3 separate regions of the Homo sapiens genome follow, and all the other regions are reported to be linked to region 3. Evidence: microRNA targets listed by miRTarBase, many of them from high-throughput screens and not tested one by one. Region 3 holds a microRNA gene; each other region holds the end of a gene's coding sequence.

What was found. Region 3 holds the annotated microRNA hsa-miR-661 (UGCCUGGGUCUCUGGCCUGCGCGU, at 2,355-2,378, shown strand). A microRNA usually pairs through its seed, bases 2 to 8, with sites in the 3' UTR of a target mRNA and lowers its output. Matches are read on the target gene's strand: a 7mer-m8 pairs with bases 2 to 8, a 7mer-A1 pairs with bases 2 to 7 and ends in A, and an 8mer does both.
Region 1: miRTarBase lists TBC1D13 as a target of hsa-miR-661. Seed matches in the 3' UTR shown: 7mer-m8 at 2,718-2,724 and 8mer at 2,324-2,331.
Region 2: miRTarBase lists COX18 as a target of hsa-miR-661. Seed matches in the 3' UTR shown: 7mer-A1 at 2,865-2,871 and 7mer-m8 at 2,299-2,305.

Annotation. Positions count from the first base shown.
Region 1 is chr9:128,807,724-128,810,723 of GRCh38, reverse strand. TBC1D13 (TBC1 domain family member 13) reads right to left here. Exons shown (of 12, transcript NM_018201.5): 12 at 294-2,910. The coding sequence ends at 2,845. Among named protein-coding and RNA genes, the nearest start is that of ENDOG, 9.3 kb to the left of the region's middle.
Region 2 is chr4:73,055,099-73,058,266 of GRCh38, forward strand. It overlaps COX18 (cytochrome c oxidase assembly factor COX18), which reads right to left. Exons shown (of 6, transcript NM_001297732.2): 6 at 1-3,168. The coding sequence ends at 3,016. Among named protein-coding and RNA genes, the nearest start is that of COX18, 13 kb to the right of the region's middle.
Region 3 is chr8:143,944,245-143,947,583 of GRCh38, reverse strand. MIR661 (microRNA 661) reads left to right here and starts at 2,305; the gene lies at 2,305-2,393. LOC124902040 (a long non-coding RNA gene) reads right to left here. Exons shown (of 2, transcript XR_007061144.1): 2 at 1-2,018. It also overlaps a transcript of PLEC not described here. RefSeq lists enhancers at 1-87, 88-875.

The DNA of each region.
Region 1 (3,000 bases), not on the chromosome of region 3:
TTGAATTTTGTCAAATGCTTTTTCCACATATAATGGATGGTCTAAGCTTTTTTAAATCTGAAAAATAACAGGCTATGTAATCATGTATGCAGAACCTCCTTAGCCAGTACTCACTCCCTCCTCCCCCAGCTGCAGACTGCTGAGGCTGAACTGGAAGAATCCAACAGGCTCTTCCCAGAAGGATTTCCTGGACCTTTTCTTAGAAGGGCTACTCTAAGAGACTCTGACTCCATCCCTGTTCATTTTTCCCTGTTCTGAGGTCTCCAAAGTTTCAGCTCATCACAGCACCAATGCCCATTGCAAAGAACACATGATTTATTCAAGACAACTCGTCATCAACAGCACTGACTCAAGGAACAAAACAGATGAAAAAACTAAAGCAAACGTTCTGACCCTCTGGAGTGAGACCCGCTGAATTCATACAGCTCAATCTGTAAGTGTCCAAGATCCAGGGGGCAGGTTCTCAAGCAGGAAGCCTCAGGCACTCTGGCTCTGTGGGGACCTCCCTTGGGCATCTGCTTGAGAATCTGGGGAAGGGACATTATCAGGGCAGGTCCTTTCTGCAGGCGGTGTCCTGCTGGGAGCTCAGCCTAACCAAGGCCTGGTCCCTGTGCTCTTGACCTTCATCTCAAGGTCAAGGAGAGGGCACTTGACCCAACTCTGCCAGCGAGGCAAAGTAATGGTGATTCAAGTAGTGTGGTTCCAGGAGGGAAGGTAGGGGGCAGACAAGAGTGAGTGCACTAAAGAGTCCTGGGCAGTGTCTGCTGGGTCCCAGGCAGTGGCCCAAGCTTATGAAGGGGTTGGAGAAGGGGCTGAACCACCAGCTGACAAGTCCTGGAGAGAGGGTGGCCCAGGTGAGCAGGAAGCATCATGCCTCTGCCTCATCCTGGAGGTCCTGGAGTCAGCCCAGTTCTCTTCCCATCTTTACACTCAATTCCAGTACAGAACTCAGAGCCCGCTCAGCCAGGACCTGCTCGAAAACCAGGCAGTTCCTAGAAGCATGGGGAGAAGAGGCTGACTTTGATCTTGGAAAATGAAGAGGATCTTGTCTCCAACTCCTTTCTCCCTTCCTATACCCATGCCTCATCCCCAGAGCACTTGCCAATGTGCAATACATAGCCAGGAGTCTGAATAAATAGTCAAAGTCTCCCAAATACTGTGCTCTGGGAGAGGAGACAGGCAGGTGCGGAAATCCAGGCGGCATCAAAGGAAAAGCCTGGTAGAAGAGCCACCTGGGGAAGCCTTTCCTGGCCCAAAGCCGGGCTTGGAAGGGCAGCGAGAAGTCCTGCCCACCAGACTCGGAAAGCTTTGGGGGCAGGAGGGCTGCTGGGGCCTGACTCCTGCCAGCCAGTCTGGAGGACGAGGGTCCTCACTATGGCACCCGGCTTCCGGACGCAAACCTTGTACAAGGAGGGAGGTGACTTGGTGAGAACTGGGAGTGGCCAGCTGCCCCTGCTCAGGGTACACCTGCTCCAGCCCTGGGAACAGCTCAGGCAGGGGTCAGAGAAGGCCCTGCACCTCCCTCAGCCCGCAGCGGGTGGAGGGGTACACAGAGGCACAGACATGGCCCTCCTGGAACTGGCAGGACCCAGGGCCTTTAAGCTCAGCTACCCCTGGCCCCAGAGAGGCTTCCTCGGGCCCCACTTGCCCTTTGTGGGACTCACTCAACCCAACCCTGGGTTGGGACCTGGAAGCCGAGGGAATGACAACTCTTCTGAAGCAATGGGTTCCGACCCTGGGCTCAGAATCAAGGTCCTTTTCTTTTCGGACAGGAGGGCCTCTGGGGGAACCTCCAGAAAAACCAGCTCCCCCTCTTCCTTCTCCCTCCCTGGGCAGAAAGCAGGGGCAGGAGGCTCAAAGCTTCATCCTTACTCAGCAGCATTTGGTTTCCAAGATTTCTGTGTAGGGAACGGGTTCAGAACCCTCTAAGTGAGGCACGGAGGACTCCCTCCCAGTTGGGAGGACCTAGGAGCCAGGGCTGGGGGATGGGAACAGGAGGCAAAGGCCAAGCTTGACCTCCAGGGGCCTTGCTGAGCCAGTCTCCTCATCTGTCTCCCAGGTTCAGGGGAGCAGAGGCAAGCGGGGAGAGGAGGTGGCTCAGGATAAGGCACCCCAACAGAGAAGGGCAGGGAGAGTAATGGAGAGAGGAATCATGAAGCAAGACACAGTCCCACTCTGGGAAGGAGGTGGAAGGAGACAGGCAGAGAGGTAGAGACAGAGAAGGAGGGGCTGGGAGACCTGGAGGCCTGAGAGACCCTCACTCCCTAACACACACACACACACACACACACACACACACACACACACACACACACGGAGAAGATGCCTGGGGACTTGGGCCCACATTCACACCGACCGACTACAGACATCTGTGGGTGAGACAGACGGCAGGACTCAGCTTTCAGTGTCGCCTTCCCTGTGGAGCAGCCGAAGTGCCCCGCTCAGAAGCGGTTTCTGGCCCATTGGCCAAGCACCTCCCCTGAGTGGAGCCCAGGAGAAGACCAGAAGCAGGAACTGAGGCTGGGGCGGCAGAGCCGAGGCAGGGAGGGGCCCCTGCCAGCCTCCCAGTGCCAGAAACGGCCCTGGCCCAGGAAGGACAACTTCCCGAGCTCCAGCCCTCCTCAGTATCCTGGGCAAAGAGGGCAGAGTGCAGGGCAGGTGGGGAGCTGGGCGTGGCGGCAGAAGGAGCACGGCACAGTGTGTCCCCAGTGGGCATGGCCTGGGTCTCGGGCCGATCCTGTGGCTTCCCCTCAGGCTGGGTTCCTACAGGTTTCTATGTGTCCCGGGAGCCAGGGCACAGGGTCGGGAGGCTTCTCTCCGGAACATGGGCCTCTTGCCGCCGGGCTACTTTGAGTCTTGGAGCTCCTTGGCTTTCTGCAGGATCTGGCAGACATCTGTGATGGGGTAGTCCTGGGCACAGGAAAAGGCCAACAGTTGCCTCTGAAGCCACTTCACCCCTGCCACACCCACACCCTCCCTGCTGGGACCCGTTGCCATGCT
Region 2 (3,168 bases), not on the chromosome of region 3:
ACGGCAAAGGCCATTATGAGAAAAATATCTGAGTGTACACAGTAACACACACGGCAAAGGCAAAGTTATTCCAGAGGTAATATGTAACTGGCAAAATTTTCCTCAAATTCTTTCCTCTTTTTACTATGACCTAAGCTGCACACACATTTCTGCCTCTGCATCCTTGATTGTACACGCTGCAAATATAGTCAATTTGCATTATTTGTGGTACTTATGTTCCATAAAGTCCACAAACACTGAAGTAGTGAATACCAAATCACTGCTCCTAGAAAACATACAGGGTTAGGTTTCTGCAAGCTTTGTTTTTGTCAACAGAACAATGCAACATATTGTTGATTCAGTAACACTGAACTCTCTGCCAACAGCATTATAACTTGTGCATGAATGAAGCTTATCTAATATACTTATTTTCTCCTAAGCCTTCCTGAGCTTAGGAACATCAGAAAGCACTCCAGCAGGGCATTTGGAGGCCATTTTAAACAGTAAAATCACCAACAAAAAGAACAGAAATTAGGAAGAGATGGGACTAAGTAGACTCAAAAAGGATACATGTTTACGGTATGAGAGCTGAAACTAGAAGGCAGAGTACCATTTGTTTCACTTCTGTTGGGAGGTGACTCACATTTTTGCCTACAAATGGCTCAAAAGCACTTGTGCAAGTACTGGTTCTGGGGTTATGGATAGATTTGAGCAAGGAGGCAAATTTACAAATATAAAATCCACAAATAATGAGGATATTTCAATTCCTTCAATGTGGTTGGAAAGCACAATTGCCCCAATAGGACAGTCAGAAACCAGGACTAGGAACTTGTATGAAAAAAGAACCTAGTCTTAATTGCCACCATCTATGTCTAAAATAAATTCTCAGGGAAGCAGAATTCTTACCTCTGTATGCTGTACATTTTTTCTATTAAAAAATGTCATAACTTCATTAAGCAGGTGAACTAAAATTTAAGAGACATCAATCAAAGAAATGACTAATGAATTTCACTTTAGTTTTTATTTTATTGTAAAACATTGAGATGGAATGATAGGGTTTCCCAGAATCAGGTCCATATTTTAACTAAATGAAAATTATGATTTATAGCCTTCTCAAATACCTGCCATACTTGATATCTCAACCAGAGCTAATTTTACCTCTTTACAAATTAAATAAGCAAGTAACTGGATCCACAATTTATAATACCTGTCAATTTTTTCTGTATTAAACCTCTATCATAGTTTAAGCCTATTAGGGTACTTAATCCTTACAAATAAACAGGTTTAAAATCACCTCAATAGGCAACTGCCCTTCTGGTTTTCTTCTTTGACTAAACAATCTGAATGCTTAAGATTTTCCACTTTGGGTGCTAGCAGTACACAGTGTTACACTCTGTATTCCAGACTTCTTAAATTATAGAAAAAGGAATGTACACTTTTTGTATTCTTTCTGAGCAGGGCCGGGAGGCAACATCATCTACCATGTTAGGGACTTGTATGCATGGACTACTTTACTGCATATATTTCAAGTTGCCCCCGCTTTTTTTTTCAACCACGCATTAACTCAAGATCAATGTATGTTCCATTAGAATAAGATTTATTAACTAGGAATTGCCAGAAAATCTTCCTGGTAACAAGGAAGTCCCCGTATTGTGAGTCTTAAGATTTTTCTGAAGAGAAAACCATACATATATAGCCTTTTTTCAGATGCTCAAAGAGGTCTAAAATCCTCTCCACCTCCAAAATAATAAGAAACATCTCAGCTGGGCACAGTGGCTCACGCCTGTAATCCCAGCACTTTGGGAGGCCAAGGTGGGCAGATCACTTGAGGCCAGGAGTTCAAGACCAGCCTAGCCAACATGGTGAAATCCCATCTCTACTAAAAATACAAAACTTAGCTGGGCATGGTGGTGCACCCCTGTAGTCCCAGCTACCCAGTAGGCTGAGGTAGGAGAATTGCTTGAACACGGGAGGCAGAGGTTGCAGTGAGCCGAGATCGTGCCACTGCACTCCAGCCTAGGTGACAGAGAGAGACTCTGTCTCATTAAAAAAATTAAAAAAAAAAAATGCTGGGTGAGGTGGCTCATGCCTGTAATCCCAGCACTATGGGAGGCCAAGGAGGGTGGATTAGTTGAGGTCAGCAGTTCCAGACCAGCCTGTCCAACATGGTGAAACCCCATCTCTACTAAAAATACAAAAATTAGCTGGGCGTGGTGGTGTGCACCTGCAATCCCAGATACTTGGAGGCTGAGGCAGGAAAATCACTGGAATCCGGGAGATGGAGGTTGCAGTGAGCTGAGATTGCGCCACTGCACTCCAGCCTGGGTGACACAGTGAGACTCCATCTCAAAAAAAAAAAACATGAATCATCTCACTGATCCTCTTATTTTACAAAACAGTAATATGCAGTATTGTTTAGTTTAACTTGCCATCATTCAGTAGCTAACCCTATTCTCCAAAGTTCTGGTAGCTCTAACAAACTGTAACTTTATAAACAGAGACAGGCACTTTGGTTCTATTCTAATACTTTCACAAACATACTGCATTTATAACATTTAAAAGATTTTAATTACTGTCAAATATATCTGGATTACATCTTTTTTTTTTCTTTGATAGCGTTTCACTCTTGTTGTCCAGGCTGGAGTGCAATGGGGTGATCTCAGCTCACTGAAACCTCTGTATTCCAGGTTCAAGCGATTCTCCTGCCTCAGCCTCCCAAGTAGCTGGGATTACAGGCACCTGCCACTAAGCCCAGCTAATTTTTTTGTTATTTTAGTACAGACAGGGTTTCACCATGTTGGCCAGGCTGGTCTCAAACTCCAGACCTCAGGTGATCCACCCACCTCGACCTCCCAAAGTGCTGGGATTACAGGCATGAGCCACTGTGCCTGGTCTGGATTACATCTTAACCTACAATATTTCATGAAGTTAATGATTTTAAATAAAAGGAAATCAAGTAACATCTGAATTTCTAAGTCTAAATACATTTAGATGATAGTGACTCCTGCAACTGTTTCAAAATTATTGGAAAATATGTCATTTTCTTGAAATGAACTTGGTATTAAAGGCAGCAAATATGTCTTTATAAGGAGTTTCTGAATCTGACTTGGTCGATGGTATTCGGCAAAGTTGGCGAAATCCAGGAGAACGCAGCAGCAAATTCTGTGAAAGGCCCACGAAGCTGGAGCA
Region 3 (3,339 bases):
TAGTAGAGACGGGGTTTCGCCATGTTGGCCAGGCTGGTCTTGAAGTCCTGACCTCAGGTGATCCGCCTGCCTCAGCCTCCCAAAGTGCTGGGATTATAGCTACCGCCCAGCCCTAATTTACATTGCAAATGGCGATGCTTTGCCTGGCTCAAAATTCTGAAGGAACCGAGGATTGTGTGGAGGAGACGCCAGCTGAGCGCTGTCCATGCACCAGCAACGGGCAGGGGCCAGGTAGCCGCCACCACGGTGAGCGCTGTACACGCACAGCACCTAGAGCTGCTTCCCACAGCAAAGGGCAGGGGTTGGGTAGCCACCATGACTTCCCCTCTACACGGAGGACACGCCTGTGCCTTGACCTCCCCCCTTGACCCTCTGTGGCCCTGCGTCAAGGAGGAAGCCTGGAGGTGGCCTGGCTGCCTTGCCCTTCTTCCCAGCCACAGGGTGCTCTAGGTGGAGGGACTATGGCCCGGCCAGCTTTCCACAGGGATCACTGGCTTGGCCGAGTCACCCGTTTGCGGGATTTCTGTAGATCGCCGGCAGGCTTCTAAGGGGTAGTTACGATGGGATTTGATTTGCACTTCACTGGTCAGCAAGCACCTGGGTGGAGAGGTATGGAGAGGGGAGGCAGGTGTCACCATTGCCCCTGGACAGATGCCTGGGGCTGTGCTGGTTGGGGAGGACTCAGGTGGAGGAAGAGACCACCTTTGGGGCTGAGGAATGTGAGTCTCAAGGAGTGGGGTGTGGTGGGCAGTTTGGGGCTCTGCTCCCGCCTGGCTCCTGAAATACCGCTGGGCACATGGATGCCTGGAATGTGGGTGGGAGGGTGGGAGGGCAGGGCTGGGCTGGTGGGGCCTGCAGCGGGAAGGGGAGGCTACAGGGTGGGGTCTGCTGGGCGGGGGGTCTGCTGGGCGGGGCAGGAACAGTAGGGAAGACCCGTGGGCTGGGGCCGGAGGGCTCTCTGGGATTGCAGGCAGGCCAGTCCCCTGCACCCCCAGGCAGGTCTGCTGGGCTGGTCTGACCCGTCAGTCGGCTGGGCTTCATCTCTGCTTACTGACTAAGGGGTGGCTGCGAGGAGGAGCCGCTGCTACCAGGGCATGAGTGGGCCCTCCCTCTGCCTCCCACCCCTTCCCTCCTTCCTGCCTCGCCTTCCTCCCTGCCGGCTCTCGGAGCAGCCTGGCCTGTGTGGCAGCCATGGACAGGTACAGCATGGAGGAGCTGATTCAGCTGGGCCAAGGTAGGGCAGGCAGAGCTGGGGGCTGTGGGAGGCAGAGGAGAGGGCCGGGGCCGCCTCTGGCAGACCTGTCTCTTCCCGTTGTCCACCGTTCTGTGCCGTCAGACCTGGGATGCAGGGATAGGCACAGCCCCCTCTCGGAGCTGCCCCAGGGGTGTGTGTGATGTGTGTCCCGGAAGCACAGGCCTGTCCGGACCTCCGTGGAGTGGTAGAAGAACTGCCCGCTGCCAGCCTGGGGCACTCCTCCCGCCAGGAGCTGGTTCTCACCCAGGCCATTGAGTCAGGCTCCTCTGAGGCTTCCCCAGCACGTGGCAGGGAGTGGGCTGAAACGTCCGGCCTGTCGGCCCCTGCCCACTGCTGGCCAGATGCTGTCCTGGGCTCAGCTGGGAGTTGGGCCCTTTCTGGCATGCCTGGGTATCCCTGACCCTCAGGGCTGCCTGGGCCCGCCCGACCCCTGGCCGCCCAGAGTGGGCCACTGCAGGCATTTCCCTCGGCCGCACGTTTTTGAGGTGTGGGGCTGGAGAGCAGGAGGCTGGGGTGGGCCCGGCCCTCTTGTTGTCCGCGGGCTTCCCAGCATGGACCTGGGTGGCCTGCCCAGTGGCCCGGGGCCAGGCTGGTTCACTGTGCCTTGCTGTGGGCTGAGGTAACTACACTGGAGGCCACCTGGGCTCAGATGGCAGCGTGCGGGACAGCAGGCGGCGCCTCAGGCTCCTGGTCTGTATGAGGCCTTCATGGTATAGGACTTCATGGGGTTTGCTGAGGGTTCCATGTGGTGCCAGGAGCGACGCTGTGGAATGGGGTATACCGTCAACGTGCATTCTCCTGGGCCTGAGGGGTGCGCCCAGCAGACAGGGGTCCCAGGAAGAGGAGCAGGACTGTGCGTGTCCCACGTCCTGTTTCCCCGGCTGCATTGGGATCTGATCTGCATAGGATATGCTGTGGGCCTGCCTGTGGCCCGGCTCTCTGACCCAGGCCTTCCACAGAGCAGGGCTTCGGGACTCCTGGGTGGAGCCAGGCCAGTCTCCTGCCGTGGCCCAGGAGAGGCGTCTCCATCCCAGATCCCTGGGACCCCAGGAGAGGCTGTGCTGTGGGGCAGGCGCAGGCCTGAGCCCTGGTTTCGGGCTGCCTGGGTCTCTGGCCTGCGCGTGACTTTGGGGTGGCTGTCCCGGCCACCGGTGGGGCCAGGTGCTGTGTTGAGTGACCTGCGCAGGGCCCTCTGGGAGAATGGGCGGCCTCTTCTCTTGGCCCCTGTGGCCTTTCCAAGAGCACCCCCTGGCTTGGCAGGGCAGGTGGGTGGGGACTGCACCGCCTCCTGCAGGGACGTGAGCCCGCACCTCCCGCGCCCTGCTCTATTATATTAGAACCCCCTGTGGGAGCTGGGGGACCGAGGTGTCGGGTGGCACCGTCCAGCCAGACCTGACTGCAGCGGGGCCTGGGTGCCCTGGCGCCGTGCGTCATGTTCCAAGTCTGGGTGGTGACGGTCCTTGCGCGCCCTCCTCGGATATTTATATCCCCTGGGCCCCTGCCCACTGCTCCCCTCCCCCACAAGCTGCTGCTGACAGCAGCACGGCCGTGCCCTCCTCCCACCCGACGCTGCCGCCAGTGGCTTGTGCCTCCTCCGAGGGGCCTGTGACCTCCCACACCCCTGGCCCGCTCCGTCTGCCCCGTGGGCTCCTGCCACCGTCCCCGATGAAGATCGTGCCCGGTAGGTGGGCAGCCCTTGAAAGCCTTGTGAAATCCTGGCCCCTTGCTGGGGACAGGGGCCAGAGGGCTGGGGCTGAGGCTGGAGGCCAGGGGCGCTGTCCCTCGCCCTGCACACAGCCTGCCTCATGTGCCCTCACCCAGACCCCCTCAGCCCTGGTCTGCAGTCTCACTTTTGGGGTGTTGGGGCTGGTGAGGAGGGCGAAGTTGAAGGAGTGCAGTGGGTTCAGCTGCAGGCTTGAGGTGGGGGCTCTGGCATCCCTCCATGCCTGCCAGCTGTCCCCAGAGGGCAGCCTTGGAGGCAGAGTGGGCTGCTCGGGCCCCTCTTCTGGTGGGGACAGCAGGGGGAGGCTGGGAGGGAGGGAGGGTGTGTGCCGAGGCCGCGGGCAGTGCTGGGGGGCTGCGGC